Homo sapiens: one gene and its partners. The protein of the gene in region 3 interacts with the protein of the main gene of each other region in a pairwise test. Each region holds a gene or a part of one and is shown on either strand. Other genes may lie near its edges. The genes, in order: NFAM1, NR2F6 and BCL11A.

Region 1 (3,745 bases), on a different chromosome or scaffold from region 3:
TTGAGACACATTGACACTAACAGGCTGCATTTCCGGGGTCTGGCCGTGTTTGCACCAACTGTCTGGGGTGTGGGGCGAGGCGTGCACAGGATTAAAGGAGATGGTGTCCTAGGGCTCTGGGCTGCAGCCTGGGGAGGTACACACAGGTCAGCCTTTGCCTCCCCAGGGTAAGTTTCCGGTGAAGAACATTCTTTACAAGTAAGAGGATCCTCTGAGCCTACTGGCCGAGGGGCCCAGCTTGGGGCTGAGGCTGGCCTGGGGCTGAGGCTGGCCTCTACTTACCGGCTAGGTCTTGAGCAAACGAACTGGCTTCCCTGGGCCTCCTTTTCCCTGTCCTTAAAATGGTGCAGGTGAGGACAATAGGAGCCCCAAGGGGTGCTGTGAGGGTGGCCAGTACGTGCCCTGCTAAGGGCTCCATAAAGCCTAATTTGTGGTCATGAGAGGGGGTGCAGCAGGACAGGGTGGGGGCAGCTCTTGAAAGCCCCATAAACTAAGAGAATAGAAAGGAAGGCACCCTGTCTCCACAGTGGAGGCCACCCCTTTGGCCAGAGGGAGGGTTGGCTGCTGCCCGGCCAAGGAGGGGCAGAGAGAATCTGGCAGAATTCACTGAGCCCTCGTGCTGGCAGCCCTGGAATGGGACCCTCCTGGGCCGTCCCTGGCCTGATGAACTGGCCCTGAGGCTACCTACCCCACAGCTTGGCTCGGATCCCGGCCACCCAGCTTCCAAGAAAGCCTGGAACCAGGAAAGGAGCGCCGCTGGCGTGGAAAGACACACTTGCATCCTAAAACACTTGGCCTCTGGTTGTGTTTCAGGAACTGGGAGGTGAGACCCTTTCTGGTGACTGACAGTTTTGTGCCTCTGGGCGCAGAGCCCTGTGGCTGGCCCTGGTATCCCCCCCTCCCCCCTCTCCCCGCTCTCCCTGGCCAATGCCAGCAACAACCCAGAGGGTAGCCCCACCACTTGCCAGGTTCAACGCAGTGTCCCCCGCAGCAGCCACGTGAGGTTCCTCGGATGGGGAGCTGTCCCTCCCCCCTGCCCCGCCCCTGGCCCCAGCCACACAGCGCCCACCCTCCTTGTTTAAGGGCCAGGAGGCCAGACTGCTGGGGCAAAGCTGTCACAGCAGCGAGGGAGAGAGCGCTGTCCCCCTCCCCTTCAAAAGCCACCTTGGCAAGGCATTAGCTAAACATCTTCTCGGTCCCAGAAGGCTTCCCCTGTGAAGTCTGCAGCGTTCAAACGACAACCAGCAAATCCCCAGAGACAGGTCCCTGGGAATTAGCTGCGCCGGGCGGGATGAAAGCCGCTCTGATGTTCTGGAGCGAGAGAGTAGAGAGAAGGAGGAAGACAGACACTACCTGCCAGTCGCAGGGTCCCGGGCAGCAGCAGCACGCCAAGGAGGAGCCAGGGGGCTGCGGGGAGCCCAGGAGGGCGTGGGAGGCCTGGCAGGGCCCGCCACCTCACAGGCTGGTTCTCCATCTGGGGGCCTGCTTGTCTGCGGCGACTCTTTAGTTCACAGGAGGGGACGGCCGGCGCTGACAGCTTCCCCTTTGCTTTCCCCACGAAGCTCCTCCCTGGCAGCCCCTGACCTTCCGCTCAGAAGCAAAGCTGGAACAGCCCAGCAGGGTGGCCGCCAGATGAGGAACCTGGCACTGAGACTGGTCCAGGCCACACAACCAGAAGAAGAGCTGGAGACGGGACCCAAGCCTCCCCACTCCAACCCCTGGTGGGCTTCACCCTGTCTCGGCCCCTTTCCAGCAGGGGCCCCGTCCAGGAGACACTGGTAACTGTGCAGAGGGATCATGGGATTTCCATGAGTGACTTCGGGCCTTGGTTTAGCCTCTCACTTCTGAAACACTTTTAAAACGACCACAAGCATGTTCACACAAACTTCTCTAAAATATTCTGAGAATCCCTTAATAATGTGTTTACCAAAGGTAGGTTTTTTGGTGAGGGGTGGTAGGGAGGCTGGGGTGAAGGGCAGGAGCCTCATGTTCCCAGCCCTAGAGAGGGCCAAACACCCAGGGCAGGTGAAAGGCAGGCTGCCCATCATTCACCCAGCGAGAACCTCTGTGGGTCCCCTGCAGAGGCCCAGGAGACGCCTCCTCTCTGGTCCATCTCTAACGTCAGCTCCTCCCTGTGGCTGCCCTAAAGCTTAGCTCACTCGGCCTCCCAACTGTGAGACCCTCGAACTGCTTCCCCATTGGCTGCAGGTCACAGCCCCTGCTCTCACTTCTAGCAGCATCAGCCGGGGACAGGAATTGTTTGCTGCCGGGACCCCCTTCCCCAGCAGACTGGGAGCCCCTCACCCTTGGCACCCACACATCTGCCTGCGTGTCTGGAGTGGCAGAGGAAAGGGGCTGGGGTGTGGTGATGGCTGGTGGAGCTGGAGGCACCTGGTACATGGAAGACGCAGGCGGGAAGGTGGCTGAGTTTCAGCGCATGCTGAGCGCTTACCTCCCTTCTCTGCAGGTGTCCCTTCACTCACCAGATAAATGTGATGATCCCAGTTGTACAAAAGAGAAGACCTCGGCCCCAGGAGGCAAAACAACATGCCTAGGATCAGGGCAGGTCTGTGGGGCGGGCATTTGAACTGCCAGTGGTATGATGTCCGAGCCTTCTCCCACCCTGCTACTGCCTGCTCAGGTGTGTCCAGCTGCAGCCCCCGGTGACGGCATCATGAGATCCATTTCAGTTCTTTGCACACATGCTTTTCCCTGGGCTGCTCCAAACATGAACAGTGAAAGCCTAAAGACGTTTCCACCAATGCCACGAGCACTGGGAGGCTGGCAAGAGCAGGGGCCGCCCACCAGGGGAGGAAGACATATGAACAGGAGAAGTTTCCTACCGCGCAGGGGGCAGGCGGGGACCCCAGTGTTATTGACTGTTGATCCATCACAGTGATACATGCTCACATATGTCACAGTGAGATGCAGACCCGCTGCTTCACGCTATTCCTGGCTCCTGGGAGTAGCAGGTTGTCTAAGCACCTTGATGCCATGGTGATAGACCTCGTGTCAATGCCTCAGGGTACACGGGGAGCATTGGAAAAGCATCGGTCTGTGCCTCTACAAGTCTCATTACGACTTGGCACTGGGAGGCAGCTGAATGCCAAACTGCCTCGGAACAAGGGAGCCTGCTCTTCCAGCCCTGGTGCCGCCTCCGCTCCTGCCCCTGTGCCAGCTCACTGACCCTACCTCTCAGCCTGTCACGGTGCCCCCCACACCCCAACTCTGTACCTCGGACTCCCGGGAGTTCTGCCGCCTCTGAGTCTGGGTCTAGCCTGCTGCACACCTGGTTTCCACGCTTGCCTGCCTGAGCTGCCTGTCTTCCTCCCCTCTCCTTCTTGAGCCTGGCCCAGGGGGTGCAGGAATGGACGGATGGGTGAGCATAAGGCAGGGAGAAGCCTTCCTCCAGGCTTGATATGAAGGCAGGTGCCCAACACCACGCTGGTGCACAAGAGGCCTCAAGGGAAGGGGTAGCCTCTGGGAGGCAGGGTGGGAGGAGGCGTGCATACTCCCCAGGCAGGCCCTGGGCTGTGGAGCGCAGACATGACTGGACAAGAAGCAGCTGAGGGTCCCAGCTCATTGCCCAGTTTCTGAGACGCTCTGCAGCCACGCAGCCTCCTGGGGAGAGGCAGGGACGCACCTTGGCAAGGAGCCCAGCAGCCCTGGCTGCGCTGTCGGGGCCTCGTGTCTGGCCCTGATCCTCCTCGGGAGCCAGGGGGATAGAAATAAAACCGCAGCGCAT
Region 2 (3,745 bases), on a different chromosome or scaffold from region 3:
CGGGGCAGCCGGTGTCCGAACTGATCGCGCAGCTGCTGCGCGCTGAGCCCTACCCTGCGGCGGCCGGACGCTTCGGCGCAGGGGGCGGCGCGGCGGGCGCGGTGCTGGGCATCGACAACGTGTGCGAGCTGGCGGCGCGGCTGCTCTTCAGCACCGTGGAGTGGGCGCGCCACGCGCCCTTCTTCCCCGAGCTGCCGGTGGCCGACCAGGTGGCGCTGCTGCGCCTGAGCTGGAGCGAGCTCTTCGTGCTGAACGCGGCGCAGGCGGCGCTGCCCCTGCACACGGCGCCGCTACTGGCCGCCGCCGGCCTCCACGCCGCGCCTATGGCCGCCGAGCGCGCCGTGGCTTTCATGGACCAGGTGCGCGCCTTCCAGGAGCAGGTGGACAAGCTGGGCCGCCTGCAGGTCGACTCGGCCGAGTATGGCTGCCTCAAGGCCATCGCGCTCTTCACGCCCGGTGAGCCACGCTCCGAAGAGGGCCGCGGGATGGGGGGACCCAAGGGAGGTTAGGAGGAGGGCGGCCTGGACCCAGACTCCGGCCCCCATAGCGCCCCGCTCGCTCCCTAGGCCTGGGGCCCTGCACGCGCCGTGAGTGAACGCTCTTGGGTGGCTGTAGAGGGGTGATGTAAGCAGTGTGACACTGTGACACCCCCACTCCGTGATCCCAGGACTCTCGGAGAACTCTGAACCCCGGACCCCAGACCCAAGGCTGGGCCAGGACCAGGGCCCAGACCCCAGAACCCTCTTCCTGTTCCCAGGCTCCCTGAGACCCCTACTCCCTCACCAAAGGGCTCTTCAGGCTTAGTGAGCACTGATAGCACAAGGTTGGGGGGACGTGGGAGGGAAGGTCCTGACCCCCTGGTTCTGGCCCCCTCAGGCCCCCACTGGGCTCCCAGGGCAACCTCCAGGTAGCCAGGGTTGTAGGGATCTGGGTAGGGGCGTGGCTCGGAGGCCCCTCCCGTTGAGGGGCGGGGCAACCCCAGAACTTTCTTAACCATCAGCTATCTAGCAGTGGTAGCCCATCGTATTCCAGCGACTGGCGGTACAGCCAAATTTTTTTTTTCCACTTTATTTTTTTATTTGTATTTCCATTTTTTGAGACTGGGTCTCACCCTGTCACCCAGGCTGGAGTGCAGTTGTCCGAACACGGTTCACTGCAGCCTTGATCTCCAGGGCTCAAGCAATCCTCCCTCACACTTCAGCCTCTTGAGTAGCTGGGACCACAGGCGTGCACCACCATTCCCGGCTAATTTTTTTTTAAACGTTTTCTGTAGAGACGTGGTCTCACCGTGTTGCCTAGGCTGGTCTTGAGCTTCTGGGCGCAACCAGTCCTGCCTCAGCCACCCAAAGTGCTAGGATTACAGGCATAAGCCACCATGCCTTTAGACAAAGATCTCTCCAGCCTGTCTCCTGGGAGTTCTTTAACCTACTGGAAGTCTCTAGATCCCATCAGAGGTATCTTTGGGGCTAGGAACCAGATCCAGGCTACTCTGGGAGGTGGCTTTCATTTGATAAATATGGTTTTGGGCCTGCAAGGTGGCTCAGGCCTGTAATCACCGCACTTTAGGAAGCAGAGTTGGGAGAACCACTTGAGCCCAGGAGTTCGAGGCTCCAGTGAGCTCTGATTTTCCCACTGCACTTGAGCCTGCGCAACAGAGTGAGACCGCGTCTCAAAAATCAATAAATATGGCTTTATTTATTGTTTTCCCAGAAGATTTTTTTTTTTTTTTTTTGAGACGGAGTCTTACTCCGTCGCCCAGGCTGGAGTGCAGTAGCACGATCTCGGCTCACTGCAACCTCCGCCTCCCTGGTTCAAGCTATTCTCCTGCCTCAGCCTCCTGAGTAGCTGGGATTACAGGCACGCGTCACCACGCCTGGCTAATTTTTGTGTTTTTAGTAGAGACGGGGTTTCATCATGTTGGTCAGGCTGATCTCGAACTCCTGACCTCATGATCTGCCCGCCTCAGCCTCCCAAAGTGCTGGGATTACAGGCGTGAGCCACCGCGCCTGGCCTTCCCAGATTTCTTCTTGGCTTCCTATCTTGGGTCTCTCTCTAGAGGCTGCCACATTCTCTCACACCGTAGGCCCTTCTGGGCTCTGTCTTCCTCATCAAATTCCCTTCCCAGCCCCACCTTCCCTGCGAGCTTCCTTAGAACCCATCTCCTTGGCCTGGCTGGTGGCCCTGTAATCCCAGCACTTTGGGAGGCCGAGGTGGGGAGATTGCTTGAGGTCAGGAGTTCAAGACCAGCCTGGCCAACACAGCAAAACCCGTCTCTACTAAAAATACAAAAATTAGCTAGGCGTGGTGGAGTGTGCCTGTAATGCCAGCTACTTGTGAGGCTGCGGCAGGAGAATCACTTGAACCCGGAGGCAGAGGTTGCAGTGAGATCGTGCCACTACACTTCAGCCTGGGCGACAGTGTGAGACTCTATCTTAAAGAAAAAAAAATTAGAACCTGTCTCCCTGCCAAAGGCATGAGTTGGGTGCCAGCCACCCTTGAAACATCACTGCCTGCACCCCTATGTCACTGGTTAGATGAGAACACCTCACTATCTCTGGAGGATCGACACAGTCTTAGATAGTCCCATTTGCATCCCAGGGTCGTTTTTTGTTTTGTTTTGTTTTGTTTTGTTTTGTTTTGTTTGAGACAGGGTCTTATTACTCTGTCGCCCAGGCTGTGCTATGATCATGGATCACTGTAGCCTCAAACTCCTAGGCTCAAGAGATCCTCCCACCTCAGCCTCTTGAGGAGCTGGGACTACAAGCGTGTGCCATCACACTGGACTAATTTTTATTTTTTATTTATTTTGAGACAGGGTCTCCCTCTGTTGCCCAGGCTGGAGTGCAGTGGCACGATCTCGGCTCACTGCAACCTCCGCCTCCCAGGCTCAAGCGATCCTCCCATTAGCCTTCCGAGTAGCTGGAACTGCAGGCACGCACTACCATGCCTGGCTAATTATTCTTATTTTTAGTAGAGACGGAATATCATCATGTTGGCCAGGCTGGTCTTGAACTCCTGACCTCAAGTGATCCACCTGCCTCAGCCTCCCAAAGTGCTGGGATTACAGGCGTGAGCTACTGTGCCCAGCCCCAGCTGATTTGTTTTTGCAGAGAAGGGATCATACTATGTTGCCCTGGCTGGTCTCAAATCCTGGCCTTAAATGATGCTTCTGCCTTGGCCTCCCAAAGTGCTGGGACTGTGGCCGTGAGCCATCATGCCCGGCCCCCTGTTCTTACCCACAGTGGCGAGTGGTGTCCCCTAGTCACCCCTGTGGGCTCTGTGTTCTCTAGCTGCCTCCCACCTGTCTGACTTGCCTTTGTCCCCCTAGACGCCTGTGGCCTCTCAGACCCGGCCCACGTTGAGAGCCTGCAGGAGAAGGCGCAGGTGGCCCTCACCGAGTATGTGCGGGCGCAGTACCCGTCCCAGCCCCAGCGCTTCGGGCGCCTGCTGCTGCGGCTCCCCGCCCTGCGCGCGGTCCCTGCCTCCCTCATCTCCCAGCTGTTCTTCATGCGCCTGGTGGGGAAGACGCCCATTGAGACACTGATCAGAGACATGCTGCTGTCGGGGAGTACCTTCAACTGGCCCTACGGCTCGGGCCAGTGACCATGACGGGGCCACGTGTGCTGTGGCCAGGCCTGCAGACAGACCTCAAGGGACAGGGAATGCTGAGGCCTCGAGGGGCCTCCCGGGGCCCAGGACTCTGGCTTCTCTCCTCAGACTTCTATTTTTTAAAGACTGTGAAATG
Region 3 (3,745 bases):
CACGGGCAGTATTTCTCAGACACATTAGCTAAATGGGATACTTTTGAGTACTTAAGAAAATAAGCCAATTAGTCATTTTTTTTTTATTCTGAGAAATGGAATGCCTATAATATTCTAAACATGTTTGCACTTGGTGGCATCTATGATATAAAAATCAGAATGGTCAAGCAAACACCACATTTCAGAGCAAGGCTGAGAAGTCCTTTCTTTAGACTTGAAATACTTCGCCTAATGTTGTCAAAGTGGACTAATTTTCTGAATGAGCTCCAAAATGCTTCATTATGAGACTATTTCTGCACACATAATCACCAGCGGATGGTATAACAAGGTAGACATGTCTTTCTTTCCTGTTTGCTTTTTTTTTTAACTTTGTACTAAAATACTCCAGCATCTACTTTACCAGCTTCTATCATTTTTTAAGCTTCCAAAGGGGAAAAGAGAGTTGGTAAGTCTCTGCTTGTGAAATCTTATGCTTGCTCTATCAAAAAAAAAAAAAAAATCACAAAATACAAAACATCCAGGATGCTGCCAGTTAATAAAACTGAAGCAGAAAATGTACAAGTCTTAAACAGTTAATCAGTCTGACCTTCTTTAGCAAGCTGCCAATTTTACATTTAATGAACTTAAAGCCACAGAGAATCAAAAAATAGATTTTAATTTGAGTGTAGAATATTGGAACAGATTTTGATAAAGTGCAAAAATCCAGTGAACTCAGGTTAAATTTATTTCAACCCTACCCAGGCTGAATATTGAGGGGGAAGATCTGGAGTAACTCCCAGATGTGCTAGGTGAAATAATATTGAGAGAGCCCTGCCTAGCTGCACCTGTGCTCAAGTAGGACATCTCATAATTTCTAGCCTCTGGTACTCCTCCTAATTTAACATAAGGTCACCACAGGAATATGAAGGTTATATTCCTACTAATAAAGACAGTAAAGTAAGCACTTATGTTTCTTTGCCCAACATACTGGCCAAAAGATAAATACAGAATACATATGCATACTTTTCAAATAAAAGAAGACAAACAGAAGTGCCTCTGCATTGTGCCTTAATGTCATTCTTCTCTTACATTTGCTTCCATTTTGACCAAGTGAGGAATAGGGAACTCATTCTCAAAATATTCCTGTTGTCTGAATTAAGGATTTTAAGTACACATTGATAAATGTGGCTTTTTTGTTTAGCATTAGCTACAAGTTCTGAGGTTTACAGACTGAAGGAAGACTTAGGAAAATATTTTATCAAACTTACTAGTACATAGAACCTTTGCAAAAAAAAAAATTTTTTATTTCCACCGTTAAGATTCTTTTTTTTTTTTTTTTGTTCCCAAGGTCTGACACATTTCTAAAAGTGGGAATATTATTTAGGTGCAAAAGGAAATATTCTCCTAGGTATCAAATAGTTAAAGGTAATGTGGTTCAAAACAGACTTGGTTAAAGTCTTCTAAATGTAGTGACTGAACTGATTTACAATCAAAACCGGGAAATGAAGTGGTAATTCAGAGGTTGCTGATTACACCTCCACATTTCACCTAATTAATTTTATAGGAGGCAAAGTTCTTGAAAATAACAAGATGATCAAATGTACAGATATAAAACCTGTAACCTCAACATTTTCTATGCTCTTAACGTAAATTATTGCTAATTAACAAGAATTATATTCTAATGTATGAAATACGTTTAACATCGGTCTCCTTGCAAAACATTTGGCTAGTGGTGTTCAGAGAAATACCAAAACGTGTTTTTATCATTGCTGGTATATTATTAAAAATCAGACAAAGTGGGACACAAAGAAAATATGAAAATACAATTCTCATGGTGTAGTCTACTGATTTGCATTGACATCTTTTCTCAGTGGCAATCAACATTTCCTTTCTGGGCATCTGATAATTTCTCTGCATTTTAATGCAAATTCCCCTTTCCCTAAAAACCTTCCTAACCCTCAGCCATTTACCCCCTCCCTCAATTCAACTCCATCCTCCTTCGCCCCAACAATACCAACATTTCTAAGCTCCGGCCTAAACTCCGGCTACAAAGCAGGGAGTCCTCGATTGAAGTGGAAGGGAGTGGGCAAATAATCATAATAATTAGCCGCGAATTCTCTCTACGAGGGGAGGAAGAAATAGAAAATAAAATGCTTCTACGTTCAAACAGCAAGACAGCCTGGAACGTCTCAATGTCTCAGTGACAGACTGAGATCTCTTTCCTCTCTGTGTAGTTGCAAAAGAATAAATTTAAGGGAAAAAAATAATCCTTATAGGAAATGTTGGTAAGGAGCGAGCAAAACGAGAGCTGCCGGGGAGCGGAGGGGGAGGGGGAAAGGGAGATGTGTCTTCAAGTTTGCTTTCCAAGTCCTTCTCCTTGATTGTCTTAACAGGGTAAAGAAGCAAACGGAGGCTGAAATTCAGAGAGGAAAAGCAAAGAAACAAAAGCAAAGCCGGGGGCTACAGGCCCGGGGCAGGGGCCCCGGCAAGGGTGGACCGTGCAGAAAGTGAAGTTGGGCGCGGGGACTCTGAGGCACAAAGCGAGCAGCGTGCTGGCTGCAGGCTCCCGCCGCGCTTGCTGCGAACACGTGCAGCAGCGGCCGCGGGGCCTTGGGGCCCGGGGGCCCGGAGACGGAGGGCAGCCAGGGGCCCTGACTGCTGCCTCCATGCCCGTCCAGCTCGGCCAGCTCGGCCGCGGGGTGACGGTTCCCTGGGCCTGCCAGTTGGTGAAAAAGGAAGTGAGGTTTGGAAAACCCGGCTGGTTAACCTGGTGCAGTCTCAGTATCTCCGCACACACCTCAAGCGCGGGTCCTGAGATTCATTCTGTGTCCACAAGCTTACACTTTTTACTTTGGGGGATCTCTGCAAATGCATTTCCCCCGCAATTCTGGGCACTGGGTGTGCGCGGCGGCGGCTGCGGTTATTCATTATTAATGACGCTGCCTGCCCGCATCATTATGATGATAACTATTACTATTGTTGTGATTCCGAGCTCCGAGGCGAGAGGGGGGGTGTCGGGCTGCAGAGCCGCCCAGCAAGCCAGCCGAGGCCACCGAGGTCTGTGCTTTGCATGGGGGTGAGGGGGTGGAAGAAGTGAGGCTGGAGACCAAGTGCAAACTTGCCATATCCCCCTCTTCGGCCATGCCCCGAAGCCCTAGAGCGCGCACTCCCGGTTCCTCCCTACCAAAAATGCCGGCCCCGAAAGAAAGCGAAAACTGCACCGTGCTCCGAGCCCGGCGCGCGCTGGTCTCAGCTCGCGCACGGGGGTGTCGGCCGCGCGCCCGGTCGCTTCTCCGCGGCCCCGGCCAGAAGCATTTTTAAAGTCAAAATGAAGAACAAAGACATACGGGGTGATGGGGGAGAGAAAGGGAATTCTGCCTAACCGTTCTTTCCCCCCACCCCCACCCTCGCAAAGCTCGTTCCTCCCCGGACGAGAATCGCCGGGCAGGAGGTGGGGGAGGCTCTGGTACAGGTTCAAGTTCGCTGAGCTTTCTTGATCTTGTTCTGCCTCCTAGCGACCGAATGGCTCATTCAGCCCACATAGCAGAGGCGGGGGGCGGGGGGGTGGTACTGAGGACCGGGATGGCTCCTGCCCCCTCTGAGCACCCAGAAAATGAGGACAGAAAGAAGTGGCCCCCTCACCCCCTCCCAAACTGGCCCTTTAACCCCGGGACAGGAGGAGGGGGTACTAACCCTCCCAGCCTAGAGTGTCCCAAGATGGACCCAGGAGGGAGAGGGGTACGAGGGAGCAGCCTGGACTGCGCGC

What was found.
Region 1: the proteins of BCL11A (region 3) and NFAM1 interact in binary tests that used the Homo sapiens proteins (3 or more experiments, as listed by UniProt).
Region 2: the proteins of BCL11A (region 3) and NR2F6 interact in a two-hybrid assay, tested with the Homo sapiens proteins (one study listed by BioGRID).

What each region holds. Positions count from the first base shown.
Region 1 is NC_000022.11:42,430,884-42,434,628, forward strand, and holds the start of NFAM1 (NFAT activation molecule 1 isoform 1 precursor), read right to left. Parts: upstream 1,521-3,745; 5' UTR 1,475-1,520; coding exon 1,354-1,474; intron 1-1,353. UniProt on the Homo sapiens protein: May function in immune system as a receptor which activates via the calcineurin/NFAT-signaling pathway the downstream cytokine gene promoters. Activates the transcription of IL-13 and TNF-alpha promoters.
Region 2 is NC_000019.10:17,232,210-17,235,954, reverse strand, and holds part of NR2F6 (nuclear receptor subfamily 2 group F member 6), read left to right. Parts: coding exon 1-456; intron 457-3,328; coding exon 3,329-3,603; 3' UTR 3,604-3,745. UniProt on the Homo sapiens protein: Transcription factor predominantly involved in transcriptional repression.
Region 3 is NC_000002.12:60,547,029-60,550,773, forward strand, and holds part of BCL11A (BCL11 transcription factor A), read right to left. Parts: intron 3,199-3,745; exon of another isoform or gene 2,777-3,198; intron 1-2,776. UniProt on the Homo sapiens protein: Transcription factor. Associated with the BAF SWI/SNF chromatin remodeling complex. Binds to the 5'-TGACCA-3' sequence motif in regulatory regions of target genes, including a distal promoter of the HBG1 hemoglobin subunit gamma-1 gene.